Regions from separate parts of the Homo sapiens genome. Here region 2 is linked to region 1. The links come from fine-mapping of genetic effects on gene expression. A gene starts in region 1. The other region holds a variant in brackets. All regions are shown on one strand. Distances are from middle to middle. Region 1 holds the start of MXD1 (MAX dimerization protein 1). Region 2 overlaps MXD1 (MAX dimerization protein 1).

Region 1 (15,190 bases):
TCTGGAAGAATAACCAAAGTGCAGCATCCTTGTATTCTTCCTCTAAGAGGCTCATCCTCATAGGGGATGTAAATTGAGCCAAGTTTTCTAAGTGTCTAAATGTTAAGTGCTCCAGGGCTCAGTCCTTGGACTCTCTAGTCTCTTCTTTGGTGAAGTGTCCATTTGTGTGGCTTCAAACACCTTCTGCCATCTCTCTCAAATTTATACTCTTCCTGTCGGACCATTTTACTGAACTACAGTCATGTATATGCAACTAGACTATTAGGCACCTCAAATTTAAGATTAACTGAACAGAACTCTGCCCAGTCTTCTTTTTTGGGGCTTTCCCATCATAGTAAATGGCCCTTTCATTCACTCCTTTGCTCAGACCATGGTCCTTGGGGCCATCTTTGACTCTTTTATTTTATGCCTTACATCTGATTCATTAGCAGATTATTTTGGCTTTAACGTCAGAGTACATTTTGAATTTGACCACTTTTCACCACCTGTGCTAACCTAAGCCATCTCTCTTGCCTGGACTACTGCAGTAGCCTCCTAACAAGTCTTCCTCCTTCCACTCTTGCTGCCTGTTTATTCTCCATCCAGTATCAGAGAGGAACCTTTTGAAATGTACATCAAGGCTGGGCGCAGTGGCTCCTGCCTATAATCCCAGCTCTTTGTGAGGCTGAGGCCAGCGGATCACTTGAGGTCAGGAGTTTGAGACCAGTTTGGCCAATGTGGTGAAACTCCATCTCTACTAAATATTCAAAAATTAGCTGGACGTGGTGGCATGCACCTGTAATCCCAGCTACTCGGGTGGCTGGGGCAGGAGTTTTGCTTGAAATCTGGAGGCGGAGGCTGCAGTGAGCCAAGATCTCACCACTACATTCCAGCCTGGGCAACAGAGCGAGATTTTGTCTCTAAATTAATTAATTAATTAAATGTGCAACTAGTCATATTGCTCCTGGCTCCAGTGATTTTTTTAAATCATTTAGAATAAAGTCCAGTCCTCAGTGTGGTCTACAGGGCCTCCATATGACCTAGACCCTGGCTTTCTACAGCCTCACTCTTGCTCACTGCACTGAGCTACACTGGCCGGCCTCCTTGCTGTTCTTTCAAAACAGGCTTGTGTCTACTCCCAGAGTCTTCTCACTTGCTCTTTCTTCCTTCTGGAATGTTCCCCCACCTCCCCGATTTGCACGAGTAGCTTCTTTACATTGTTCAGATCTCTGCTCAAACTAAGGTCATTCCTGATCACCCTATCCAAAATAGGAAACTTTCTTCCCTGTCTCTGTACTCTGCTTTACTCTTTTTTTTTTTAACATTTAAAAAGTTGAGATAAAATTTATATGCCATAAAATTTACCCTTCTAAAGCTTACAATTCAGTGGTTTTTAATATACTCAGAGTTATGCATCCATCATTCCTAATTCCAGAATGTTTTCATAACCCCAGAAAGAAACCTCATATCCATTAATAATCACTCCTCATCCCCCTACCCCTAGAATCCACTAATGTACTTCCTGTCTCTACAGATGTACCTATTTTGAACATTTCATATAAATGGAATAATACAACATGTAGCCTTTTGTGTCTGGCTTCTCTCATTTAGCATAATGTTTTCAAAGTTCCTCTGTGTTGTAGCATGTATCAGTACATCCATCATTCTTTTTTGTCTGCAAATAATATTCCATTCTATAGTTATACCACATTTTTGTTTATAATTCATCAGTTGATGGGCATGTGAGTTGTTTTCACTTATTGACTATTAAGAAATAATGGTGCCATGGCTGGGTGTGGTGGCTTATGCCAGTAATCCCAGCACTTTGGGAGGCCGAGGTGGGCAGATCACTTGAGGTCAGGAGTTCAAGACCAGCCTGGCCAACATAGTGAAACCCTGTCTCTACTAAAAATACAAAAATTAGCCAGACATGGTGGCGTGTGCCTGTAATCCCAGCTACTTGCGAGGCTGAGGCAGGAGAATTGCTTGAACCCAGGAGGCGGAGGTTGCAGTAAGCAGAGATTGCACCATTGCACTCCAGCCTGGGTGACAGAGTGAGACTCCATCTCAGAAAAAAGAAAGAAAGAAAGAATGGTGCCAGAACATTTGTATACAAGTTTTTGTATGAACATGTTTTCAGTTCTCTTGGGAGTATGCTTAGGAGTGGAATTACCAAGTCATGGAAACTATGTTTAACTTAAACATAAAGCACTGTCAAACTGTCTTTCAAAGCTGCTGCACTATTTTACAGTCCCATCCACAATATATGAGGGTTCCAGTTTCTCCGTGTGGCTCTCCAAGCCCTCCTTTACTTGTCTTCACCGCATTTATCACTGCCTGACATACCCTATATTCTTTTATTACGTCTGGTTCTTCTATTAGACAGTGAGCTCGGAGAAGTGGGGGATCTCTTTGGTTAGCTCTGCAGCCCCAGCACCACACAGTGGCTGGCACAGAGTGCAACGCTCAACCCATGTCTTGAATTTGTGAATATAGTTCTGTAACCTTTTTTCACTAACCTAGTCCCTTGATCTTCATTTTACATCTGATTACCTTTAGTTACCCAAGTACTTTATTTTGTATTTAACTTGCATTCAAAAAACAGGATCTCAGTTCTTCCTTCTTGTAAAGTAAGAAAATCTTATTTATGATATATGCAGTTGACTTATCTTGCCTCAACAGAAGAAAAGTTAAATATTACATTTTTTTCTTTTAGGAAATATCATTTGTGGCAAGCGTCTTTCTTGTAACAGTCTTAAAACATCGTGACAAAGCTAAACTCCTTTCGAACAGTACTCAGAATGATATTGCCCATTCTTTCTGCTAATCCTTTGCTTTGTATCTTTTGTCCATGCCTGTATGTATATAGCAGAGTAGGAAATTGGGAAAATACATAGTTTGGGCCTTTAAAAAGAAAATGCTGTAAGGGTTATTTTACAATCTATTTACTCAACACTGTGCCTTAGGGATCTTTTCTTGACAGTATATATAAATCTACCTTTTAAAAAGCTGCTGCATAGTGTTTTGTGTGATATACATATGACAATTTAGCCATTGCCTTTTTGTTTGTTTGTTTGTTTACCTGCTCTGGCTGGAGTGCTGTGTGGTGCAATTATGCTCACTGGAGCATCAACTTCCTGGGCTCAAGCAGTCCTCTTGCTTCAGCCTCCCAAGTAGCTGGGACTACAGGCTGCACCACCACACCCAGCTAATTTATTTTTTGAGTAGAGGTGAGTTCTCACTATGTTGCCCAGTCTGGTCTCAAACTCCTGAGCTCAAGTGATCCTCCCATTTCAGCCTCCCAAAGTGTTGAGATTACAGGCATGAGCCACGGCCCCTGGCTGTTGCCTCATTTTCTAAATCACAGATTTGTAGAGTGACTAATTTTTGCAAAACAGTGTTTTTAAAGGTTTTTAAAATTTAATATTATGATGTTAGGTATCATATTAGTGTGTCCAAAATAGCCACAAAGAAAGAGATGATACTGTTGAACCAGAAACTTGAAATCCTGATTTATCTGCTTCGAGGAACAAAATCAATTCCTCAAAACCTTATAAGACAAAATATATTTTAATGTCATAGTAGTTAGGAGGTATCAAACTCAGTTATAAATAGGGGGCTTTAATTCCCATAGTGATAGAACTTTTTAGGCACTTCAGGATTATAATACGGTAACAGTTTTCTTCCCTGCCACTCTGGGGTGCTCTCTGAAGCGGCATCTCCGGCAGAGAACTCCATAGTGTGTGATGAGCCTGCTGCTTGCTCAGTATTGGCATTTACCTCTTAATATACTGTCCTATGCCCATCTGGAGTATAAGCCTCCCAGAGGAGACTGGGCAGAGATTAACTTGGCAGTAAAGATTATCTGACAAGTCTAATATTTTATGTCTTTGTAATTCCCCATTTTCAAGTATATATCTCAATTAGTTTATCTTGATATGTGCTCAAAGATATAAACTATTGTCATCCCATGTTTATGCTATTACACATAACTTTTTATTTAAAGTTCTGGTCATAAAATTCTGGTTCAAACATTCTAGAATTCCCAGCTTCTATTTCTGGAGCTGTGACTCTCAGTCAGTCAATGCTTAGGCCATGCCTTTGAGGCACTAGGTATTGAAAGTCACCACTTCTTCATTATCTTAGGATTCTCAGTTCTTTCTTCAAAACTTATACTTTCAGGTTTTCTTAATTAACTGGTCATTCCATACATCTGTGTAAAATAATTTCTAGGAAAACTCCGAATCTCAAAACCTTTGTTTTATACTTACTACTTCATTTCCAGTAGATGGCACCAAACACCCTTTGAAGGTCTTCATTATACTAATCCCTAGTTGGTGTTGCTGGCTAATTGATAATTTCATCCACCACCAAGGAACGAACATGGTCTATTCTTCAGCTGATTCTCTAATTTTTATATAATGTAGTATTTTTGTTTGGAGTCTAAGCTAGACTTGTTGGCATTTAAATTATTTGCTGTTTCTGGCTCAGATTTCAACCTTTTTTCCCCCTTTTTAAGACAAAAATAAGTGTGACTTTCTGGTCAGGGTGATTGTAGAGGAAGGGTCATGATACTGAAATAGGACTTGGTTAAAATAAAGAGTTGAGAGTAAGAGACTAAAGACATATGCCAAATGTTTGTAATAAAATTAAAGAGAAAATATAAATATATACAAAATCCAAAATGTCAGGATAATGAAATCAAAGCATTTTTAGTATTATCACTTTGGGTACTTTAGTAGAATTGCACTCGTTTATGATTTTGAAGTTTGTTTTACAAATAACATCCAATTTAAAAATACTCTTTTAAAACTTAGATCCTTTTATAGTTCATAAACATAGTAATTAGGTGTTCCCATTGCATGTATGAGATGTGCCTCCCAAAGAGCTTGTTACAGCGTTAGTACATTACCTGTCTGATATGGAGAAAAAAAACTGTTATATTTCTACCTTCATTTCCAACTTTGTATTGTGCTTTGAAAACCTTTACCTTCAGTATGTGTATTTCATTAGTATTTTCATAAAGAATCAGTTTTTAGATCCAGTTAACCACTGAAACCAGAATATGCCTATATGTCAGGCATGATTTACTACATGTTTATTCTATTTATTGAGTTGATTTAATTTTAGTGGGTTTGTGGACATTAAAAAATACATGTTTAATATTTCCCACCATAATTACATTTACACCTTTGTCTTTCTTTTTCTTCAGTACTTGAGTTGTCAGTGTTTTGTGACTCAGTCTGGAAATCTGTTTAAACCACCTTGTCTTTATACAACTACCAACAGGAGGATTGGTAATTTGGGCTCTGGGTGAGACATACATAGGTTCAGTTTCCATGTCTGCAGCTGAATGCATGACAGGGAAAATCATTTAGCCTCCCTGGGCCTCAGTTTCTTCACGTGCAAAATGTAATTAACACAACCTACCTCATGGGGTTATATTGAGGATTAGAGATAATGTAGGTAGGATACCTACACATAGTAAGCTATTATATATTGGCAACAATAATAAACTTTTAAAAAAAGAAATATGTTCATGCTTTACTCATTTGTATTTTGGGGACTCAACCTACCAAGAACTTTATTTCTACTTTTAAAATTGGAGATGTCTGTCAGTACATTGGCAGTGTAGCTTGGTTTGCCAGATAGCTTTCATTTCAAAAATTTTAATAGGTTTAGGGACCGATCTTTAACCTTTTTAGTTCTGTATACGTAACATTCTATTAAGCATTTATATTGGTACCACCCCATGCGGAAACACACAATTTGCAGACGTCTTAAAGAGTATTCTTGGCCGGGTGCGGTGGCTCACGCCTGTAATCCCAGCACTTTGGGAGGCTGAGGTGGGTGGATCACCTGAGGTCAAGAGTTCGAGACCAGCCTGGCCAACATGGTGAAACCCCGTCTCTACTAAAAATACAAAAATTAGCCGGGCGTGGTGGTGGGCACCTGTAATCCCAGCTACTCAGAAGGTTGAGGCAGGAGAATCGCTTGAACCCGGGAGAAGGAGGTTGCAGTGAGCCGAGATCGCGCCATTGCACTCCAGCCTGGGCGACAAGAGCAAAACTCCCTTTCAAAACAAACAAACAAAAACAATAATCTTGTGAGTGTTTTCATCTAGAATTAAAAGGGAGGGGAAAACCCCAAAAGAGATTTAAGCAAAGAATCTTAGGGTTTAATGCCATTCTGTAGGTTCAGGAAGTCTCTGAGCTTTAAAAAGCCGCTCGCGTGAAAGTAATTAATTATTCCATCACTTCCCGGGGGTGGAGGGGGGTGCGGAAAAGGCGCATGAGCTCAATGCTGTATACTGCAGCCCGATTCCAGCTCTTTCTTGAGGGCAGAAAAAACGCCGAGCGGCGAGCATTTAACAACGGCCGGCTTTTCTTCTCAAGCCCCGCAGCAGCCACGTGGCGCCTGCCCTAGCTCCCGGCTCACCGGCCACTAGCCTGCACCGCTCTTCGGGAGGATTCGAGGCTGGGCCCTCGCCAGCCCGAGTTCCGCGAAGCCCAGAACCTCCAGGGCCGCGGCCACCAGACCGAGGGCTCCGGCCCCGAACCCAAGCGGGGCAGAGCGCCCAGGCGACACGAGGTGCCAGCCTTCCATTCGATGGACGCCTGGCAGGTCCCCGGAAGTTTTCCCCGGGGACAGGTCTTGGCAACAGGTCCGAGGCAAGGCCGGGTGGAGCAGAGCTCCGCAGCGGCTGGTGAATCAGCGCCGCCCAGCGCCGGACCGGCCCTCCCAGCCAATGCCAGACCCGGTGAGGAGCAGCCAGGCTGCTGACCATCAGCCACTTAGGGCTCGCCTGGCCTGGAGAAAGGTGACATCATCGTAGCTGGGAGGTTTCCGAAGGCTTCACCAATGGGAGACCGGCGAGGTGCTTGCCTTCTGCAGCTCTTGGCCAATACTAACAAAGCAAAAGGGGGCCCGGGTTGTTGGTATAGAACCAATGGGAAACAAGGAAGGAGCACGAGGCGGAGTTGCGAATCCTGTCACCAGTTGGAAAGAGGGGGTGGAGCCCGGGCCTTGTCAAGTGTGACCAACCAGCGAGAGGAGCGGACTTTGCGGGGTGGAGCCCTGAAGCCCTCTCCCAATCGCACAAGTGTAGGGGCGGGGCATTCTTTGGGGGGCCCAATGAGGAACGCGGCCGAAGCTGGCCTGTCAAGAGAAGGGGCTGGGGGCGGGGAGATGGTGAGTCGGGGATAAACACTCCGCGGCGGTGGCGGCTGCTGCTCTGCTCCGGGTTCTGTCACTGTGTCGGCGGTGCCCAGCTCACTGGCCCCCTCCCTCTCTTGTCGAGCGTGGTTGCCAGAGAGGCTCCCTCAGCCCTGCTCCGCGGGGTCCACAGCGGGCTCCACAGCGGGCTCCATAGCGGGCTCCACAGCGGTCCGGCGGCGGCAGCGAGCCCGTGGGCAGTGGGGGTTGGTCCCGTGGCTCCGGCCCCCGGTGCAGAATGGCGGCGGCGGTTCGGATGAACATCCAGATGCTGCTGGAGGCGGCCGACTATCTGGAGCGGCGGGAGAGAGGTGCACGGGGACGGGGAGGGGTCCACTCGAAACGAGGCCGGGGGTCCTGTGGGGCCGGCCTCAGGTCCGGGCGCCCAGCCGCTCCGGGGGTGGTTGGAGGCGGGGAGACCGCGAGCGCTCCCAACCCCTCTGGCTCTCCCCACGCGCGGTCCGAAGGGAAGCCGCCGCTGCCCCAAAGCAATGAATGGGGTGGAGAAGGGGCTGCCGCCCGCCGGGGTCCCGAACGCCGCCCCTTCCCCAGCCCTTCACGAGTGGGTGGCCGGGGCCCCCTCCGATAGCCTCCCTGGTTTACCTCACCCGGGCTGGTCCCGGCCGGCCCCCAGGTGGGCCCGGCGCCCCAGTCTCCTGGGCAGAGGAGCAGCGCCTCCCGGTCCCCGGCTCACGGTGCTTGCCCCGCACCTTCGCCTGAGCTGGTTCCACTTAACCCGCACCAACCTGCTGGATGTAGCCAGTGGGAAACCCAGGCTGCGTGAGCCTAGCCACTACTGTGTCTTTCTCAACAATGAGCAGCTGGAATCCTCCTTACACCTGCTCCGAATTGACGATATTCACACAATTTTTTTTTAAATCATTGTTCTCAGAATTCCACCTTACTCCATTTAATTATTTCCACAATATTCTTTTAAAGATAAATAAAGGAAAAAGGAAATACTGTAGAGAGGAGAGAGCATTAAATATTCTGGGCCCATTCATTAACTGGATCCTCCTGTTTTCTAGAAGCTGAACATGGTTATGCCTCCATGTTACCATACAATAACAAGGACAGAGATGCCTTAAAACGGAGGAACAAATCCAAAAAGAATAACAGCAGTAGCAGGTAATTTGGTAAATACTTCTTTCTGTCTTTTAGATTATATTGTAGGTGACACAAACTGCTGAATGTAAGTTTTCTGTTGTGATTATAACCCTATAAAATTACATTGTGGCCGTCATGATTCAGTAATGTACACATGGACTTAAGCCATTGCAGGAAGCTGTTTCTGTTTGGGTTGAGGGAACTGAAAAGAAAAATAGAAATGTTTTACATTTCTTTATGAACTTTATTCAAAATTTAATTTCACTTTTCTTCCCTTTTGGAACAAAAAAATCTGTGGAAGCTTCAAGTGAGATTAGCAATGGTGACAGTATTTTCCCTTCAGAAGTTGCAGATTCAGGGCAAGTTTTCTATAAGTCAAAATGCTGGACATTATCCATTTCTTTTACTTTTCATAGTAATGATTTTATAAACACATTAAAGTACCTGACTTGGCATAAGTGATAGGATCTCATACTTGACATGTAAATTAAATACAGTGGTTTGTTTGATACTCTAATTTGTCATCTCTATTTGTAATGGCAAAGAGGAATGATTGAGGTTAAAACCTACCTCTTTAGTGATAGAGGAATATATAATACCAAAATATTAATATGCTACAACTTTTCCATGTTAGCCTTATCGATTATCTTATACCGTAGTTCTTAAAAGCTGTGAATCTCACTGGAGATTTGGTTCATGGTCAGTTAAATCACATATTAAAGTCCTATGCATAGTTTCTGGTACATGCAAATAGTCCATCAATGTTGCTGCCCGTTTCCCCCCTTCTTTGCCCTTAAAATATAGTTGGCTAGGAAATTTGTTCTATTAGATCCCTTCAACTATACCTTTCCTGCCAGTAAATTAAAAGCATTGACCTTTTCGTCACTAGTTTAGAATCCTTATCCCTCCCTCACCCTCATGAATAACTCCTTGCAAGTATCTATTTGGATATCCTCTGTGGCTTAATACAGACCAGGAATTTCCCACTTAAACCTAAAAATCACTTGTTCTTGCTGCGTCTTCTGTACTTGGTTTACCTCTTTAGTATCGTTAGTGGAACCACAGGATGTGAGCAGCATTACTTGTGCCATGCCCTTGAATAAAAATGGCACTTGAAGGATCAACCTGGTAATTACCTGGTAGGTTTTGCTTGTCCTCCCACCTTAGCATTACCTGAAGGTGGTAGCCAGTAGTTTTGTGCATGGGTATGAAGGCACTTTAAGAAAGATGTTAATACTGACTTGTAATATGCAATGGTGTAAAACCAATTAAGCTGTGTTGCATTTTGTTACAATATTTTTTTAATTTTGTTTAGAAGAATTTTGAGGCCTTTCAGTTAATTTTTCTGGAAAAGCATCATCCATTTTTGCTTTTATTATTGTCCACTAATGATTTGAGAGGAATTGTCCAAGTTACTTATTGAGGCTTAATACCTTAACACTTTGTTTTTTTCCTTAGTTTCACAGGAAGGTTGTAGGGGATGTTCACTAGTGGGGATAAGAAAATGAGATGTTGAAGTGGCTTGGTCCCAAAAGGTGATTAGGAAAGAAAAATAATAGTAGTTAAGAATCTTAAGCCAAGAAATGGATTCTTTCTAGTATCTTCTCTTTAATAATCAGTACTATGCCAAAAAAAAAAAAATAAAGGCTACAAATCCTTCTGTTAATGGGTTGGTTTGCTTTCCATGGTTAGAGACGGGATTATCACAGTTGTCCATACACCTGACTGATAGTGAGTTAGTGTAATATATTCAGTGGTGTAAGGATTTCTGAGAGACCATGATTAAACCTAGAGGTAGCACCAGCCAAACGTGTGAGGCAAGAGCAGGCAGTTTTCTTTCAGTGTGATCATTTCCTTCATGACTCATTTGGAATAGCTCCTTTTCTGAGGAACAAGCAATCATAATGGAGAAAGCAGCTTGACCCCATGGTTTGAATCGGCTTTATATCCTCAGCCATGTATGGTCAGAATTTTGAACTGAGGTAAAGGATAGGGAGAGATTACTGCTGGTTTACATAACCCTTGGATAACAGTTTATTCTTGTTCTTACAGGTTGAAATGCTGTGCTTTTTGCTTGTAGAGTCTAGGGAAGTACTTTTCCTTGGACAATAAAAGATAAGATTTTGCCACATAGGAAACTTCTTGGGAACTGAAAATGCAGATCTTATTCACGTTTCTCTAGTTGCTTATTAAAACAACAAAAATGAAAATGAAATTGTGAATATCAATTGTTTTTGAAATTATCCATAGAACTGCTGGAATATGGGAAGATGGAAGTTTCTTTCCTACTGATTTTTGAAGTCAATTACTAATTATTTAGAATTGAAATCTAGAACTTCTTAAAAGTGTGTTTTGTTCAATGAGTAAAGCAAGCTTTGGCACTCACGTGAAAGAGGAAGTTCAGGACTTGCCACCCAGTTGTTTTATAAGACAGTGGCTAGAGTGACCTGACATGAGGAGTGTTTTTGAACCCAAGAATTTTTCCTGGTTATCTCAGATACGCCGTAATTTGGCTTAGTTTTTTTTTATTAGAGTGTATTTTTAAATGGTGAAATTTGACCTTTATCAGTGATTCCAGAGTTATCCATTGTTTTCCATAATCACATGGAAAATAGTTTTGACACAAGGTATCAGTGTGTTCTTACAGTGCTTTAATTAAAAACGTAAATGTTTACCCATCAATGGAGGTGGCTGGCAGTCTCGGAACTGATCATTTTTGAAAGGGCTGCTTTTTATTAATAACTCAGTTTCAGTAAACTAGATGCACTTCAGTAATGCTCTAGCCATTAAGTACAAGTCCCCCTTTAAAAAGCACCATGTGTTTAACACTCGAGTAATCAAATAAAATCTGTAGTTTTAAAAATTTTGTTCAAATTTTGGAAGAAGTTGTGCTTCCTATGGAGTTTGTTTAAAAGTTTATTTTGGGGATTCAGAATTTTGCATAAGTATATAACTCTATTTATTAGTTTATATATTTTCAAAGAATCCAGAAATATTTTGGTAAGAATTTCCTGTGTGCTGTTATTTTCTACTCTCTTCTCAACCTATTCACTTTCCTCTCCTCCACCTACAAGGGGTGGTCCTTGTCTACAGTTAAAGAGGGTAATCTCAACCAACTGTTGGCATATACTTTCATCCATTTTATTTTATTTATTTATTTATTTTTAGACAGTCTCGCTCTGTTGCCTAAGCTAGAATGCAGTGGCACCATCTCGACTTACTACAACCTCTACCTCCTGGGTTCAAGTGATTCTCCTGCCTCAGCCTCCCGAGTAGCTGGGATTACAGGCGTATGTGACCATGCCTGGCTAATTTTTGTATTTTTAGTAAAGACGGGGTTTCGCCAGGTTAGCCAGGCTGGTCTCGAACTCCTGACCTCAAGTGATCCACCCACCTCAGCCTCCCAAAGTGCTGGGATCCCACTATGCCCATCTACTTTCATCCATTTAAAAAAATCTGTCAGGCTTTGAACTTACTAGTCCCGGTTAAAGTTAAAATGCCACGTGCTTTAGAGCCAAAGGTTTGCAGTATATGCCAGATTCTTGTTAACTATAGTATCCTGTTGGCCATTGAAGGCAATAAACCTTCAGAACAATGTGACTGGAGAATGCTGAGGGATAACCAAGTGAATCAGTGTAAAGCTTTTATTTCTTTTTAATTGAGATGGGCTCTTGCTGTGTTGCCCACACTGGTCTCCAACTCCTGAGCTCAAGCAATTCTCCTGCCTCAGCCTCCCAAAGTGCTGAGATTACAGGTCTGAGCCACCATGCCTGACCATTTTAAAGTTTTGTTTTGTTTTGTTTTGTTTTGTTTTGTTTTGTTTTGTTTTTGAGATGGAGTCTCCCTCTGTCGCTAGGCTGGAGTGCAGTGGCACGATCTCAGCTCACTGCAACCTCCAACTCCCTCGTTCAAGGGAGTAGCTGGGATTACAGGCACGCGCCACCACGCCCGGCTAATTTTTGTATTTTAGTAGAGACAGGGTTTCACCATGTTGGCCAGGATGGTCTCAATTTCCTGACCTCATGATCCGCCTGCCTCGGCCTCCCAAAGTGTTGGGCTTACAGATGTGAACCACTGCGCCTAGCCTGAAACTTTTAAGTTAACCAATTTTGGATTGGTTTGAATACATGAGGTCCATATATTGTTTACCTAGAAAACAAATATTCTAAACTTAAAATACTGTCATTTTCTCATTTATTTTTTCTTCGTGAATAAAAATTGATTCCTAAGATCCCTGTGAAAGAGAAGTTTAATGCTAGGTTGGAAATTTCTCATTTCAAGACAACCTCCTCACTTCCGCTGCCATCCCCCCACATTCACTCTCCTTACCCCCATTCTCTGATGAGTGAACTTGATGTTGGTGCCCCTGATGTAAATGAGTGGCTGAGCACTCTTGAGGTGGTATTCCTCCATGATTGCTGTGAGAATTTATTTCCTAAGCCCAGTAAGGTGCTGATTATGGCCCCACAGAATTCATGAGCTGAACCAGGGAGTAAACTCCTGAGCTGGTTAAATTCTAGAGAATTTTCATAGAAAGGTCAAGCAAGATTCAGCTCCTTTATAATACTGGTAGCTTCTTCCAAATTTATAACTGGTTAGGAAGGGGTTGTGTGAGGAGGACACTAAAGGGGCCACATTGACTTCTTATGACTTTATGGTAACTTGTCCATAAAGTCTTAGGCCAGACCTTGTCTTTAAGGTCAGCCATAAATACACTAATCATATGGTTTCATATCCATCACACCTTTCATCCAAGGCTCTCTAATCAGTTTTACAGCTGTTACCTCATTGGTCCATACTTGTTCAGTAAATAATTCGTAATTATTTTTATTCTCATTTTATAGACAGGTTAACCAGTAACAGGATGGTAAAGAATTTTATTCATTCCACAGTATATCAGTGGCAAAGCTGGACTTCACATTTCACTAACTTCTGCTTTAAGCAACCTATCATCTTTATATTGAGCTGAACTTTGGAAACCCCTTCCTAAAATCATTTGGTTGCTATTTAACAGTAGCATCTTGTACATGATAGTTACTTCAGGGAGTCAGAAGTTTGGGGAAGGGGGTTATTTTACTATTTAAAACAATATAGTCAAGCAACTTTACACAAAATTTTGGTGTATGCTACCCCTAGGGAAAACTGCAGGGGTGGGGTAGGGGTGCTACCTCCCCTGTTCTACCCTTAGCCTACAGAAAGCTTTGTCGTATTATATAACGCAAATTCACATTGCATCGTGCAGCTGTTTTTGTATAAATAGACCCCTTTTATTTCTTGTCTTAAAATGGATTATTTTTCCACTAGAGAAGGCATGCTTCTTGGTTTGTCGCTTTACCTTGAACTCTATTTTAGGATTTACATTTATCTAACTCTTCAAATGGACTAATTTTTTTAGTAGAGCCCAGTGAATTTTTCTGCCTTTCTACATCTCTCCTATCAACTTTGGAGAGAAAGAAGTTAAAAGAATTGTGTTGGTGTTGAAGTAGTTCTTTAAGACAAAAATATCTTATTCTTCTCTTATTGTTCCCTCTTTCAGATCAACTCACAATGAAATGGAGAAGAATAGGTGAGTTGGGGATTTGGGAGGTGGAATGCGGGGAGCTTTGTTGCATTCTCTGTTCATGCAGTTCAAACTTGGTTGCTCTTTTTGACTCTTCCCACTAGTAGCACCTGATTTCAGAATTCACCCAGCGCCCTCTAAGCAGCATCGCTCATAAATTACTTAGGTAGATGTAGAGCTTGCCAGTTAAAAGACCACACCCCTAACCCTCACCCGCACCAGCCCACTCCTGAAGAAGGCCTTTGAATGACTATTCCACAGACCAAAGCATTTTAGTCAGAGGCAACATTTCCACAAATAGTGTTTTTAAAAAAATTACATGCTACTGAATATCATTGGCAGTGTTATCTAAAATACATATACACAGATATATATACACATAATATACATGTAAGTATATATTAACACATGTGTATTAACGTGTATGTATGTGTATTTGCAGTTTACTTGTGAATGAAGAGTCTCAAAATTCAGGCAAATGTATGCATGGCAGAAATTGGAGATGGTGCCTAACTAGAGGAGGACTGCCACCCTCACTGGGCTCCATCTTGCCGCAGCCTGAGTGGAATCTCTCTCACCTGGATTGCCTCTTGCTGCTTACTTAAATCTTTATTTTCCAAATCAAGTTGCCCCTCCTTCAGTGAGGCAGCCGAGTGGTTTTCAACTCTGGTTGCACATTAGAATCACTTGCAAAGCTTTCTGTGTATTTTTAAACATATTTTTATATTAAATACATTATACACATACACTTGTATATTTTTCTGGTGAGGGTAGAGAACAAAGGTTTATTTCTGCTGATTCTATAAAATAACTTTTTATTATAGAAAATTTCAAATCTGGCCAGGTACAGTGGCTCATACCTGTAATCCCAGCACTTTGGGAGGCCAAAGTGGGTGGATCACCTGAGGTCAGGAGTTCGAGACCAGCCTGGCCAACATGGCAAAACCCTGTTTCAACTAATAATACAAAAATTAGCCAGGTGTGGTGGCACGTGCCTGTAATCCCAGCTACTTGGGAGGCTGAGGCAGGAGAATCGCTTGAACCCTAGAGGCGGAGGTTGCGGTGAGCCGAGATCCCGCCACTGCACTCCGGCTTGGGCAACAGAGTGAGACTCCGTCTCAAAAAAAAAAAAAAAAAGTAGAGTGACTAATGTAATCAACTCCTATGTATCCATTACCCAGCTTCAGTAATTATCAACATTTTGCCAGTCTTCTGTAAGCAAAACCACCTATTCCCATGAAGTATTTTAAAGCAAATTTTCTTGTATCTCTAGTAAACACCAAAAAAAAAAAAAAACACACAAAACACCCAAAACAACAACAAAAAAAA
Region 2 (15,190 bases), 31 kb after region 1:
TATTTTTGGACACACCCAGAAACTTCTTTATGGAGGCTTTTGGGTTGATAGTTTAAAAGGCTGATTTTTCTTTTTGGTTATGATTTCTCCCTTAAGTGGTCTCCGACTTTGTAGCATTTTTATTTAAGCTAAAACAGAGCACATGTATATGTACATAAGACACATTAAATCTATAAATACTATTTATTCATTTTATATAAACTAATGTAATGGAAAACAAATTCTTATGACTTTGTGGTTTTATAGATGTTCTAGAAACTTTGTATGTAGGTATCTACAAAATTAGTTCATTCCCCTGAATATTTTTGCATTCATATTTTTGAGGTCTTGATGTTTTCAGCCTCTGGCGAATCTTTTTCATTGAATTTGAACCATTTGTAAAATCTGTGATGCTGAAGCAGAGTGTGTCACAAAGTGATGAGAACATTACTAAAATCCACGGACGCACTGCGACCTAAGGGCTCAACGGCTGACTCGGCAGCGGGCAGCCACCCCACGCTCCCCTGCGGTCACTCGCACACCACAGCCTGAAGCTCCCCCAGCGCCTGCACCTCGCACACAGCTAAGGTCAAAGTTCAAACGCACTCCACACGGAAGCTCATTCTATACCCGAAGAGCAGTCTCAGAAAGCAAGATTACTTTTGTGTTTTTTAAAAAATGATTCTTTAATGTATTTTTCTAAACATTCTGATTGGAAGTAGTGGATTCCTAAATGATTCCAAAGTCACCTGTAATTCTTCTGTTTTTGTTTTGTTCTGTCTTTTCTTCATTTTGGCTTTGGGTGGGGGGAGGGGCAGGTGACACAAAGGATTTTTTTTTTTTTTTTTTAATTTTTGGAATCTTTTCCAATAACCAGCTAAAGATTTGCACTGAAATACAACTTGTATGCCTTTTGCATTTTTAAAGCCTGCTTCCTGGATTTAAGCAGAGTGATAGTGTTCAAAGAGCCAGTTCAGCCTGTAACATATTTGAAAAAGATATGTCTGCACTTTGAGGTCCCTTTTGAATGCCATTCACTAGACCTCTCAAGCATTTTGTTTCATTGCTACATCCAAGCGCCTCACAAGTCCACAATGCGGGACAGCATCAAAAGCTCAAGACTTTGGAAAAAGCTTGTGGGCTTGCACTGGGGGAGGGAAGGGAACAAAATTTGTGTACTTCTTTGTTTAATTTAGAAATAAGGCATCCAAGAGATGCCATTATTTTCTGTGTTTCAATTGTTGTGCCTTTGAGTTAAACTGCATTTTTGTCTTTTGGTTGAAATCTGAAATGTACTGTCCCAATATAAAACAGTAATTATTTGACCTTTGCACTGTTTGTCTGGTCCTTTTCAGTTTGATTGCATATAAATGTGGAACTTGATAGATCTCTATATTTTTAATGCACTTGTGATAAACTGGCAGCAGGGTTAGACATTACTTTCAAAGCTTGAGGTAGACCGAGTCAGCATGCTAGACAGGCTTCTCTCTCTAACCAAAACTGTAATCTTCAGGACCAGCAAACTCAGCCCAAGGCAGCTAATCCCCCCAACCCCATCCTCCGCGCCCCGTGCGGCTGATCGGCAGCCCTGATTCGCCAATTTGTCCTCTCTCATTCACTGATCCACCAGCCTGACTGCTAAGAGCTATAGTCTTTTTAGTTGTTTTGTCTTTTTAAGCAAGATGAAAACCTTTCTATTAGGGATTTTGGGGTTGGGAGGGGATGGGCAGAGATATAAACCCCAGCCTTTAAGACTTTGACAATTGTACGTAAATACAGATGTGTATAAATATAGGCACATGCATATTTTTATGTGAAAGTTGATTTTAAAAAACTAAAAAAATCTAAACTGCACTCTTATTGATACCATCATAACGCAAGTGGGAAAAATAAGAGTACGCAGTCTAATTTAATTTCATGCAGTGGGAAAATATATATGTGTGCTTCTGTAACATCCTGAAAACATAGCTTTCCATCCCCTGTTGGCTTTGAATGGTGGGCCGAGCACCCAGGTCGTCTGTATTTTGGTTTTCTTTTGCTAAGCAGAGATCTTGAATTCTTCAAGGTGCTGATAGCAACTGCTGGCTCCTTTCTGTAGTCACACACCTAATGCTAGTTTAGTGATTCAAAATGCATCACATTTTTAGGCAGGACCTAGATTTTCCCTGTCAACCTAAGATGAAAATAATTTCAGTGTTGATTCAGAACTGAACATTAAGTAGGCCCTCGTCCTGCAGTTGGCCACTTGAGTGTTTTGTTTTGTTTTTATTTTTTAAGGTGGGCATTTTCCTTTAACCTCTACTTTTTCAAAAGCAACAAAGGGGCCTCAACCTGAGTTTCCTATGGGCCTCTCTTCTGCATCCCCAAAGCGGCCAAGAGCAAATCCTGGGGGATAAGAAAAAAGTGTAAACTAGGTAGGATTGTGATGCTCAAAATAACCATCTAGCAATATCTTGGAGCTTGAGAATAGATTTTGTGGGCTTATTTCTTCTTGCCTCTTCCCCATCCTTTCAAGAGAGAACTTATTTTTGAAAAGTATCTATATATACACACACACACACACACACACATATTATTATTTAGGTTTTTATACCATACTGTATTGGCGAGAATACCACTATCATTGTCCTTTACAGTCTATTTCTTCCCCCAAGTCTTGGTCTTTTTTTATTTTCTATTTTTTCATGAACCACACAGGAGACTTTAACATCCTGGTCTTTTCTGTTTCTTCTTTGTTTCCCCAAGTTTGTCTGTCCCCCTTTGCCTTCCCTGAGTGTTGAACATCAGGTAGTAAAAGGCTAAACGCAATTTCTTGCATGTCAATCTATTCTTTTTCTATGTTTGACTCTGATGCAGTGTGTTTAGCGTGTCTAGTAGCTGGCTACTCCTATTTAAAAACTCTTCCTGGTAGAAGACAACCCAAAGACCCTTTTCGATGAGGTGGTTTCTCATTCTACATCCTCTGATCTCTATAGACTGTAGGATGCTTTGCTTTCAAAGATAACTGGGTTAGAGGGTGGGGTGTGCAATAGGTGATTTATCATGGTTTTTTTCATTATCAATATTACATGGATGATTTTCTCAGATTCTTCTGAAAGAAGAAATTGACAGGCACTGCTAGATTCAGCTATTGAATGGCTGAAGAGATTGAGTATTTGACCTTCTCTCAAAATCATAAAGTGAGAATTCATAAGGCACCCAATGTTAAGATTTATCCAGATTTTTACATTTTGATTTCTTCTCTCTGTGGGGTGGCAAGTTGAGGGAGCATTCTTCATTTTAGCTTTTACCTGACAACCAAACTTGCCTTTACCCCATCCCTAGAATTGGTGCTCTTGGAATATTGCTGTTACCATCATTTTTGGGGGGCCATCTTCCTAATGCTACACACAGCCTGACAGGGGAGCAGCAGATGAAAGGGTATGCTATTCTGTTTCCAGATGTTTCTTTATGTAAATATGACGCCAATGTAAATCCTGTGTCAAGATCATAGAGAATGGTGCTTTTTACTACAGTTAGCACATGCATTTTTAGAAACTACTACATGTTTTAGAGAATCTTTGCTGTGTATATGTAAACTGTATTGTTCAACTGTTAACAAATAATAAATTATTTCATTATTAAAGAAATTTTGGTCTTTCTGATGTTTTGTATCACAATTTACCCTTTCGTGGTTGTCCTTGCAGAACTGCGTTCATCAGATTTCTTTTTTTCTTTTAATTTAAGGGAAACTTCACTAGCTAAAAGTTTTCAGCCCTTGGAGCCTGTGATGAGGATTGAGATTGTGTGGCTCCAGTTGAGCCCATTTGTTGATCAGAATTAGCCACAGTCCCACCCTCTCCACTGCCCCATCATCCCACCTACTGGTTTCACCTGCTCGTTGACTCATTCTTGGCTGACTTGCCCTTTGTTTTGGGTGCCTCTAATGATGCAGGCTGTAAGCACTGCCAAGACTTCTGCATCTTTTGAGCAGCCTGTAGCCTGCTGGGAAAGATATGCACACAATTTAATGCAGTGTAATTAGTTGTGGAATAAAGTTGTGTGGGAAAGCTCCATGAGAAGTTAGAGGTGGTGCATTCGAGCTGGGCCCTGGAGGAGGAGTGAGTGTTTGCTGGGAAAGGAGCATTGCTGGGAAGGAGAACATCCAGGGCAGTGAGGCAGGTGCTCAGGCAGAGTCCAGCTTCGTGGGGCTGCGGTGTGGCCTGGACCTGGGGCATGTCAAAGGAAAGACCTTGTGGATTGCACAACTCACTGAGAGGAGAGAGGCATTGGCTGAGGATGTCCGTTCCTTTACATACTAACCCATCTGGTTAGTATACATTTATTCATTCACTGAACAAATACGGCTTGAGTACCTGCTCCATATCAGGCTCCGTCCTAGAGGTGAGGACACATCTAAGAACAGCACACAAACCCCTGCCTCATGCTGCCACCTTTCCAGCGTGAGTCTCATTGGCGCTCAAGTCCTCATCATGGCAAGTTCGCCAAGTGCAGTCTGTCTTCCTGTTTTTGTTACACCAGGAGAGCACTTTTTCGGAGTCAAGAGGAGGAAAAAGTTGTCTTTCTCCTTGTTGACCAATGACTTCTTGTTCTAAAAACCACCTAAAATTTTTGAAAGGTTTTTAAGTTAACTGCATTGGCATTCTGCCTGCAGGTCTGATGAAAAAGGAACTTCCTGGTACTTCTACTTTGGAAAGTGGCCTGCCTTGTCTGCTTTCTCCAAAGAGTAGGGGTGGCAGCTGGGCCCTTTTAGGATGTGAGATTCTAGGATCCATCACTGTGGACAAGCCCCAAATGGAACCCACCTAATAGTGCATTGGTCACAACCTCAACAAAAGCTACGTTCTCTAAAGCATCAGGATCCCTTGTTTACTGTGGTTGCGGAGAGGAAGCTTTGAACTGTAGATAATTAGAAAGACAGCTTTCACATAAAATAGCCTCCCCCACAAGATGACAAATCTTATTTCCGAAGTTTCCTGACTTGTTCACAGTAGCTGGATGAAAAAATGTCACTTGTTATGCTGTATGGGCCCATGTCATAACGAGGGTCAGCCCACATTTACTGAGTGCTAAGGGCTGGGTGCGCCACTGCAGGGCCTCCGTGAACCTTCACATTGGCCCCGGGAGGGGAGCGCTAGCATTATCCAAACTTCACAGGTAAGGAAGCTGAGGGAGAGAGAAGTGAGGCATTTTGCCCCAAACCCACAGAGCTAGTGAGGGGTGGGACTGGAAGCGTCAGCAGCCGGGCTGCTGAGCCCCACACTCCCTTGCCCCAATTTTTGCAAGAGCTGTGCCAAATTGTCATCAGTCTTCCATATACGGCATCTTTTCCTTTTTAAGCCTTTGAACGAGGCTACCTATTTTCTTTGGAGGGGACCTTATATTCCAGACAGTGGAGCAGAAAAATGGGAATTCACAATACAATTACTAGGCCATGGCTGTCCTCTCAATCTCAACTTCCCTCTGTGCCTATTGTGAAGAAGGACCCCCCCTCCTCTACTGCTGATCCTCCTGGGGATCTAGTGGGAATAAACCAGCATGCTCTCAAAGGAAGACACTCTCTCTATCCCATGTCGTCTTGGTGGCGAACCCCGTGACATCACTTATTTATTCAACCAGTATTTACCGTACATGACTTCTACTTAGGCCCTGGAGTCCCCATTACCCAGTGCAGCTTTGACTCACCTCTTCGATGTCACTATGACCTAGATGAGGAGGGCCACACCAAGGCTCTCTGCCAAGAGACTATGGAAGGCCCATTGCCCACTTAGGCCTTCCCATCAATAAAGGACACGTAGGCCTGTCGTCCCAGCTGCTCTGGAGGCTGAGATGGGAGGATGGGCGCCCAGGAGGTCGAAGCTTCTTTGAGCTATGATTGTACCACTACACTCCAGCCTGGGCGACAGAGAGAGACCCTGTCTCAAAAAACTAAAACTAGAAAAACAAACCCTCGTAATCTGCACATGCACCCCCTGAATCTAAAATAAAAGTTGGAATTATTTTAAAATATATATAAA[A/G]GTAAAGGACATTCAGCTTCCAGTGGCCAAGGGTCCCACAGGCAGGGTCTCTGCAGGAAGTATTGTTCAGGGCTCAGCCCAAACTGGGTGGCGAGGCAGCTCCCTGCCCACTCTGTTCCATGCAGAATTCTGGAGTCATTGCCTCTGCGAGTGTCCTTGTGGAGACTAGATGAGGTAGATGTGGCTGCTGGCTGCTGGCTGGGTTGAACATGTTGCCCAGAGGAAAGGGAAGCTTTGTGTTGGGACAGAGTGACTAACCCACTTTCAGGCAGACGGCAGGGCAGGCTCTAACTGGCTGAAGCTTCCGGGAGCCTCCCCGGCTGTGGGTGAAGGCAGCGTGTCTGGTGAAGGCAGGCTAGGGATGTAATGGGACAGGCGAACCATCTTATCCAAAGGGATGACCACAGGAAGAGCCAGGACGGAGGCCAAGGGCATGCACCTGAGGCCAGGTCTGAGCGGGTGGACTGGGGGTATTGGAGCTAGAGAGGCCCACTCAGGCCCTGGAGAAAAGGGCAGGGGCTTTTCTAGGATGCTCTTGGCCTTGCCTGGGGGCAGAGGTGAGGAAGACAGTCAACGCAGGGAGCTCTGTGTCAGAAATACGTCTGCCTTCAAAGAAAGCAGCCATCCTGGAGGAGAAGGCACCTGGGAGGGCCTTAGGGATAGGGGAAAGAGAGAAAGGCACTGGCCAACCAACACCATTGGCCAGCCAGACAGCCGGGCTGGGTGACACCTGGAGATAGCCCCCAGCCATGCACAGGGACCAGTGGGCGTGGGAGAACCAGTATCTGTTTAGTTACAAGCAGAACATCCAACACACTCGCCTTGCCACGCTGATACTGTCATCCCCCAGAAGGCGGAAAAAACCATTGCTGTGAAGCATTCGAGCCAGTAATGACCAACAGAGACCAATAGGCTGGCCAAGTGGAAATAGAAACTCAGGGGGAGTGCCCATGTCCCCTAGGTACCCCGGAAGGTGGTCCTGGGTGATGGTCACGTGCACAGACTCTGGTCAAATGGAGCTAAGGGTCGATGCCAACTCCACCCTTAACACCCTCGGTGACCCCAGGCAAGTATCTGGGACTCTGCTGACCCGGTCTGTAGAGTGAGGATAATAACAGCATGTACTTCCCAGGGCTGCTAGGGGGATTAAGTAAGGTAAAGTATGCAAACAGCTTTTCCCCATGCCTGACATGCAGAAAGCATTCAGTACATATGAGCAATTATAATCATTTTCCCAGCCAAGGAGAGAACGTTCGAACACTGTCTGGCATGTGACTTGGATTTTCAGAATACAAAATTCCAACACTCAGAGAAGAAATAAGCTTGGAAGGGAAAATTACATTAGAGGGTGGGGAAGTGTTCAAATATGTCATTCTGACTGTGCTGTTTAGACAACAAACAGTAGGCAGGAAGTGGTTAAACCGAAAGGGGGAGCAGAGGGTGACTCAGGGACAGAATGTGGGCATTGACAGTGGAGGGGTGGCTATTTTCCAGGTAGTATCTCACCTATGTGCTGTTCGGAAGGTCAAAACGACCCTAAGACCCCGCCAGCCCTACAGGGCAGTTCCTCTCATAGAGAGACCAGATCATACAGAGGTGGCTCAGAGAGAGAGACAGAGGGAAGCCCTTGCTAAAATGCCCATATGTTGCAAGTATCTCATCAGAAGAGGCCAAATGACTTCAGTTCCCGCATTCACACGTACCTTTGCACTGCAAATTCAGAACAACCGTAGGTAGAGCTCTACCCAGACGGGGACAACTCCACACTTCAAGTATGACCTCTGAGCAACTGCAGAGGTTGTGATGATTCTTGGCTACTTTGCAGTTAATAACTTTGGTCAAAGAAGCTACCAGTCAATGCAGACTAGCACAGGGCATGGAACAGTGTGTGGCCCAGAAGAGGTATCAGTGGAAGAGTAAAGAGATAATCAGGATGGAACCTGGCCCTGCTTTCTTGTCACCACACTTTATAATGTTAGGGAAAAGTATTCTTTTGGAACTCATTGCAGCAATCCCATTGCTTTCCCCTGAAAAACAGGTGTGTTTACCTCAGGGAAACAGTGAATCATGCAACAGATCATCTTTCTCTTCTCCCTTTGGCTGTCAGGAAACTCAGAGCCAAATTCACACTTCACCTTTAGTAATTTTGTGAGAACCTGTAATGTGCATGTTTGTGACCCAGTTTCCCCTTAGTCTCTTCTCTGGCCTTGGCTTTTACTCAACATCTTTCCTATTTTAGTATTTGTAATTTTGGAAGTTACTTCCGATCCACCTTTGTAGAGAACAAGAGGATACTGCCATGCGGAATCACAGTGTAAAATAAAAAATGCTTTTGCAAGCAGACGGAAGTGAGGTTGACTAAGCAGGAGTGAGGTTATTGGGGTCAAGGGTGTGGAGAGGGAAGGTGAATGTGAGGGGTTTTTGGTTTTTTTGTTTGTTTGTTTGGTTATGGAAACAAACTTGCCAAGGACTAGGAGGGTGGTGCCCCAGGGCTGGAAATAATCCCTCCTGTCTAGAAGAACTGGGGCTCCTTTGGGGATATCCGCAGAGGCCAGAGGCAGTGGCAGTGCTGACCTGGGTCTGATTCCCCTGCCAGAAACAGGAAGGAATGCCACCCTTTCTCCTCAACTGGAGAAAGTTCGTTGGATTGCAAGTAAATGAGAATAGTGGTTCTATGGAACTAGCTTTGAATCGGATGTTACAGATTTTTTAGGAGTAAGCCAGAGAGACAGAGGGAGACCCCGTCTCTCAAAAAAAAAAAAAAATTAGCCGAGGTAGTGGCCTGTGCCTGTGGTCCCAGCTACCTGGGAGGCTGAGGCAGGAGAATTGCTTGAGCCCAGGGAGGTGGAGGCTGCAGTGAGTCACGATTGCACCACCGCACTCCAGCCCGGGCCACAGAGTGAGACCCTGTCTCAAACAAACAATCAAAATTAATCGCTTGCAAATTTCAGTATTTTATTACACCATCCTCGGCCCCACCAAGGTTTGATTAGCAGAGACAGGTCACGGCAGGAAGCTGTCCAGCGGCATGAAGGGGACACTGTCCTCAGCCTGTTCCACTCAACGTCAATACATCCATTTGCAGTCGGGTATGGATGGCACATTCTCTACATCTAGGGATGACCCCGTGGTTGCCAGATGGCACTGAGGGCCTGACAGAACCAGGATCCAAAAGTGCTTGACAGGCCGCAGTGGGGGCAGCTTGGACCAGATGCCTTTAGGAGGGATCAGTGGAGGCTCCGGGCTGGCTGGGAAGGCTTGCAGCCACGGAGGGCGGTGCTGAATACCGCAGCTCGCCCTGGAGGAAAGGGGGCTGGCTGCTCCTACAGAGTGGAGCCCTTTGGTCTCAGGAAGAGGCCCCGAGGGAGGGGGCTGCCCTGCCTCCGGGGCCACCGGACCCCACGGAAGCCTCCGAGGTCCTCTCCCTGTCTCCCGCTCTGCCCACGCCCCCCGCCTCCCCTGTAAATCCTGCCCTCCCGCGAATGCCGTCCGGCTGACAGCACTCAGGCCTCCCCCGCGGCGGGTCCCCACCTGATCAGGCCCTGTCTACACCCCACCCCTCTCCTCACTCTTCCCTGGACACCTGGGGGCCCCCACTTGGGGAGCCTGCCTGGCCGCTCCCCCCGGCACCTCGCGGCGGACTGCGCTTCACTCAGGTCTCAGTGCAAACGTCCCCGTGTCCTTGAGGACCCCCGACTCCACCTGTATAAAATCGCAGCTCCCTGGTCACTTTCTATCCGCTGTCCGCGCAGTGATGCATTTCACTTTCTCTTATCACCACATGACACCTTGTATTTTACCTGCTTGATGTTCACACGGACCTCTGCCGGAGCAGACCCTGCAGGCCCCCTGCGGCTCTGACCCAATGCCCAGGACCATGCCTGTGTGTGCTCAGCGATGGCCACTTGGGGATGGATGGGCGAATGAATGAATGAATGAATGAATGAATGAATGAACGAATGAACGAACGAATTAACACTTTTTAAGAGAGACAGAGGAGAACTTTAGGCTCAGAGCTAAGGCAGGACAAGAGTCTCCAGTATCATATGGCCCCAAGCAGAGGTGATGAAACACAGCCAGTGAGGTTTTTACTAATCACTGGCCTTGATCACCATCGGAATTGTACAGTACAGTGAGGGCCACAGAAAATACCCGGGTTTTGGAAAAATCCAGGTGACTGGTTCAAAAACAAAAGCAATTGGACAGAAAACAATTTGGTTGAGAACAAGCTGCAGAGGAAACAATTCAGCCCAAAGGACAATTTGGTCTAAAAGTATACTCCACATTATTTTTCAAAAATTAGAATTTTAATGCAGCATGAAGGTGAATTGCATCGTTTTGTGCCTTTTCAAGTATTTTGCTTACATTTCGGCATATTTAGTTTTACCCTGGGCTTTAAATTTCTAGTTAATTTTTTAGTTAACTATTTTCATTCTGTTCATTTTTAATGTTTTTTATCATGATTTGGCACATGCATATGTATTTGTTTGTTTGTTTCTTGAGACAGAGTCTCACTCTTTCGTCCAGGCTGGAGTGCAATGGCACGATCTCAGCTCACTGCAACCTCCGCCTCCCGGGTTCAAGCGATTCTCTTGCCTCAGCCTCCCGAGTAGCTGGGATTACAGGCGTCTGCCACCGTACCAAGCTAATTTTTGTATTTTTAGTAGGGATGGGGTTTCACTATATTGGCCAGGCTGGTCTCGAACTCCTGACCTCAGGTGATCCACCTGCCTCAGCCTCCCAAAGTGCTAGGATTACAGGCATGAGCCACTACACCCGGCCAGCACATATAGATGTAAAAGTGCATAAAACATAAAGGTGCTGTTTAATAGTTATTATAAAGTAAGCACCCAAAAAAACACAACTGGTGAAGAGCCAGGACATCACTGGCCCCCAGGTACACCTGAGTGTCCTTCCCAACACAGCACCCTTTTTAGCCCTGAAGGACACAGCCACCCTGCTGCTGGGGTAACCGTGTCCTTTTTGCCTTTGTCCTCTTGCCTCCTAAGAATGCATCTCTAAGCCTGGGCTTTAGGTTTGACAATCTGTTTGAGAATACTACACAAATGAAATCATATTGTGTATGTTTTGTGTCTGACTTCTTTCATTCAACACTGTGACGTTCGTTTTTCTTGTGTGGTTGCAGTACATTCCTTTTCATTACCATACTGTGAGGTTTATAACAGCAAAATGTTGGAAACAATCTAAATGTTAAAAAATAGGGGAGGCTGGGCGCAGTGGCTCACCCCTGTAATCTCAGCACTTTGGGAGGCCAAGGCGGGTGGATCACTTGAGGTCAGGGGTTCCAGACCAGCCTGGCCAACATGGTGAAAACCTCGCCTCTACTAAACACACAAAAATTAGCCAGGCATGGTGGCTGGCGCCTGTAGTCCCAGCTATTCTGGAGGCTGAGGCTGGAGAATCACTTGAATCCAGGAGGTGGAGTTTGCAGTGAGCTGAGATCACATCACTGCACTCCAGCATGGGCAACAGAGTGGGACTCTGTCTCAAAAATAAATAAATAAATAAATAAATAAATAAATAAATAAATAAATAATAAAAAATAAAATAGGGGATTGGTTTAGTAAAGTATGAAAGTTTACAAAACAGAAATTACCATGTAATCCTATTTTTGTTAAAAGGAAAGAAAGAAAAGGCAAGAACGAGAGAGTGAAAGAGAAAGAATGAAAGAAAATACATTCATATGAGTGTATATAGAGAAAGGTCTGGAAAAATACACCGTGTTTGACCTAAGCAGGGTAAGTGGGTTCAAGGTTCTTATATATGTATATAAAATATGCGAGTGTGTGGCCCAGGCGCAGTGGCTCATGCCTGTAATCCCAGCACTTTGGGAGGCTGAGGCAGGCAGATCGCGAGGTCAAGAGATCGAGACCATCCTGGCCAACTTGGTGAAACCCCGTCTCTACTAAAAATACAAAAATTAGCTGGGCATGGTGGCAGGTGCCTGTAGTCCCAGCTACTTGGGAGGCTGAGACAGGAGAATCACTTGAACCCGGGAGGCGGAGCTTGCAGTGAGCCGAGATCACGCCACTGCACTCCAGCCTGGGCAACAGAGCAAGACTCCATCTCAAAAAAAAAAAAAAAAAAAGTGAGTGTGTGTGTGTGTGTGTGTGTGTGTGTGTGTGTGTGTATATCTATATGTATATTTATATATATAGATCTATACACACACACTCATATCATATATATACACATACATATCATATATATATCTATATATAAACATATATATAGATAGATAGATATGATATGTAGCTCTAGATATAGACTGACCAACGTTTCTGCTTTTCCCGCAAGCCTCACTCATTGCTTTTGCAATTAAAAAAAATACTAAAGGAATTTGAACCATGAAAGAATAAACAAAGCAATAAAAATGAACAATCAAAAAAGAGGATTTGGAGTTTTAGGGGGGTTTTAGGGGTTTTTTCTCTCCTAGTTTATTTTCAGCCAATTATGTCTCCTCTACTTACTTGATGATTTTTTTGGTGAGTTTTTTATTTTCATAAATTGATTTTTAGAATGAATATTTCCAACCACAGTTAACTGTTTTTGAGTTTTGTTAATAACTTATACACTGCTTAGCTAACAAAGACCTAGTTGTTGGTTACTTCAGCTTTTCAAATTCATTTTCACCCACTTGCCTTGCTCTGTTTATAATAGATTAAAACAACCTAAATTCATTTTAATAAAATCTTTGTTTGACCAAACTGTTCCAGCTAACTAAATTGAGTGCTCCAAAGTCAAGCCGGCTTAAATTCCAATCTCAGTTCAGCCACTTACCATTTACACAACACTGGGCAAATTAACCTCTCCCAATCTCAATTCCCCCATCTACTAAATGGGTATAAAACCTACTTTGTAGATGTTTTGTGAGAATTAGAAAGAAATTGCCTGGCCGGGTGCAGTGGCTCACTCCTGTAATCCCAACACTTTGGGCGGGAGAATTGCTTGAGCCCAGGATTTTGAGCAATATGGCAAAACCCCGTCTCTACAAAAAATACAAAAATTAGGCATGGTGGCCCACATCTATAGTCCCAGCTACCAGGAGGCTGAGATGAGGGGATTGCTTGAGCCTGGGAGGTCTAGGCCACAATGAGCTGTGATCGTGACACTGCACTCCAGCCTGGCACGACACAGCAAGATCCTGTAAGAAAAGAAAAAGAAAAAGAAAGGAAAAGAAAAGAAAAGGGAAGGGAAAGGAAGAAAAGAAAAGAAAAAAGAAAAGGGAAGGGAAGAAAAGAAAAGAAAAAGAAAAGGAGAAAAGGAAATGAAAAGAGAAAAGAGATTGCCACATAAGCAAGCTGTGAGTTACCTCATCTGGGGCTGGATAGTTCTTTATTGTGTGGGTTGTTTGGTGCATTGCAGGATGTTTTGCAGCCTCTGACCTTTACTCACTAGATGCCAATAGTCCCCCCCATCCCCTATCCCCTGGAAGATGTGACAACCAAAAATGTCCCCAGACATTGCCAATACTGCCTTAGACCTGTCCCTCTCTCACCTCCATAACAAATGCCCCTAAGTCCTGTTGGTTCGTCCTCCATGTTACCTTTGGAATCAGTTCCCCTTTCTTACTAGCTGGCTTAGCCCTTCAGCCCGTACCAGGGCAGCACAGAACCCCCAGGGCAACCTCCCTCCATCAGGCCTTCTGCCCTGCCTCCCTCCAGGGGCTGCACAGCGGGGTGAGACATGAAAACATGAAGGTCTGCTTTTGCTCTTTGATTTTCTCCTGTTTCTCCCAGCTCAGGCAAGTAGCCAGGACTTTCATTTTACTGGGCCAAAAGCCACTGTTGCGTGTAAGACCCAAGACACTTTTCTTCCCCATCTTCTGTACCTGCCTAAACCATGGATCAGTGTATGACCCAGTGCTCTGGACAGGGAGTTGTGGGTGGTCTCAGGAAGAGTAAGGGAATATGCAGAGGGCAGATCTGGTTTGACAGGGGATGGACAGTGGTCAGTCCTGGGGATAACTGGCACCCACACACCTCTCAGCAGCCTCACTCCAAGCAAGTGGCGGGACAGCACATGGGGTGGGTGCCTGGCGTCCCTAGAGAGGGAGGACATAAGACGGGGCCTCCTTGTGCCCGTGCATGGCACAGAAAGCAGCACAACTTTGTGGCCGGAAGGGCTCACATGTGCAGGGACGCTGGGCATTTCCATGGACACAGTGTGACTGCGACTGGGCAGTTACGACCTGCAGGGTCCTCTTTCTCCAATGCTTCACTGCTGCATAAGTTTCTGGGACCTTTCCCCCAATCCAGGGTAAAAAGAGCTCACCAAAGTGACTGAGAATGAATTTCTCAAATGCCTGGCTGAATGGGGACTCAGAGTTGGACTTAATTTTCTTTTTTTTTCTTTTTTTTCTTTCTTTTTTGAGAGCAAGTCTCACTCTGTTGCCCAGCCTGAAGTGCAGTGGCACCATCTTGGCTCACTGCAACCTCCACCTCCCAGGTTCAAGCAATTCTCCTGCCTCAGCCTCCCAAGTAGCTGGGATTACAGGCACACGCCACCATGCCCGGCTAATTTTTTTTTTTTTTTTGTATTTTTAGTAGAGACAGGTTTCACCATGTTGGCCAGGCTGGTCTCGAACTCCTGACCTCAGGTTATCTGCCTGCCTCTGCCTCCCAAAGTGTTGGGATTACAGGCATGAGCCATCATGCCTGGCCAATTCACTTTAATTATGGAAAACTTTCTTAAATGACATCTCTCACATCAGCATCTATGAGTTTGTAAACTGAGGTTCAGATGCATCTCATGATGCAGATGCCATCAAGTCACTTCCCTGCCTCCAACCCTGCCCTGGCTCTCCATTGTCTGAGAATGAAGGCTCCTCATGGCCCACCACAGAAGAAGCAGGGGCTCAGCTTCCACTCCTGCTTCCAGGCCAGACATCACTAATCAATCATGGCATCTTGCTGGCTGTGTCTGAATACAGTCCCAGAATCCTTTGCAGCACTGCCCACTAGGCAGCCACATGGGTCTGAGCTGGTCCTTAAGAAGGCAAGTAGTTTCTCTATTTTACCCCCATTTCCCCATTTTACTGCTTCTTAGATCCAGATATACCATTGGCAGATACATTTGCATCGCAGAGGTGGTGGTTGTTTCCTCCAAGAATATTAATAAACTTAAAACACACTTTTGAATTGAGTGCATTTTAGAGCTGAAATAAAAGCAGC

What was found. PIP is the estimated chance that this variant, and not a neighbour inherited with it, causes the effect.
Region 2: its variant is fine-mapped to the expression of MXD1 in whole blood (TOPMed, PIP above 0.99).

What each region holds. Positions count from the first base shown.
Region 1 is chr2:69,907,899-69,923,088 of GRCh38, forward strand. MXD1 (MAX dimerization protein 1) reads left to right here and starts at 7,211. Exons shown (of 6, transcript NM_002357.4): 1 at 7,211-7,505; 2 at 8,223-8,322; 3 at 13,838-13,867. The coding sequence starts at 7,433. It overlaps LOC124906176 (small nucleolar RNA U13), which reads left to right and starts at 4,797; the gene lies at 4,797-4,901. RefSeq lists enhancers at 6,375-6,424, 6,437-7,042, 6,525-6,634, 6,735-6,934 and a silencer at 7,585-7,814.
Region 2 is chr2:69,939,338-69,954,527 of GRCh38, forward strand. MXD1 (MAX dimerization protein 1) reads left to right here. Exons shown (of 6, transcript NM_002357.4): 6 at 1-3,608. It also overlaps a transcript of ASPRV1 not described here. Among named protein-coding and RNA genes, the nearest start is that of ASPRV1, 15 kb to the right of the region's middle. RefSeq lists an enhancer at 7,146-8,345. The variant A/G (reference allele first, on the strand shown) is at 5,997.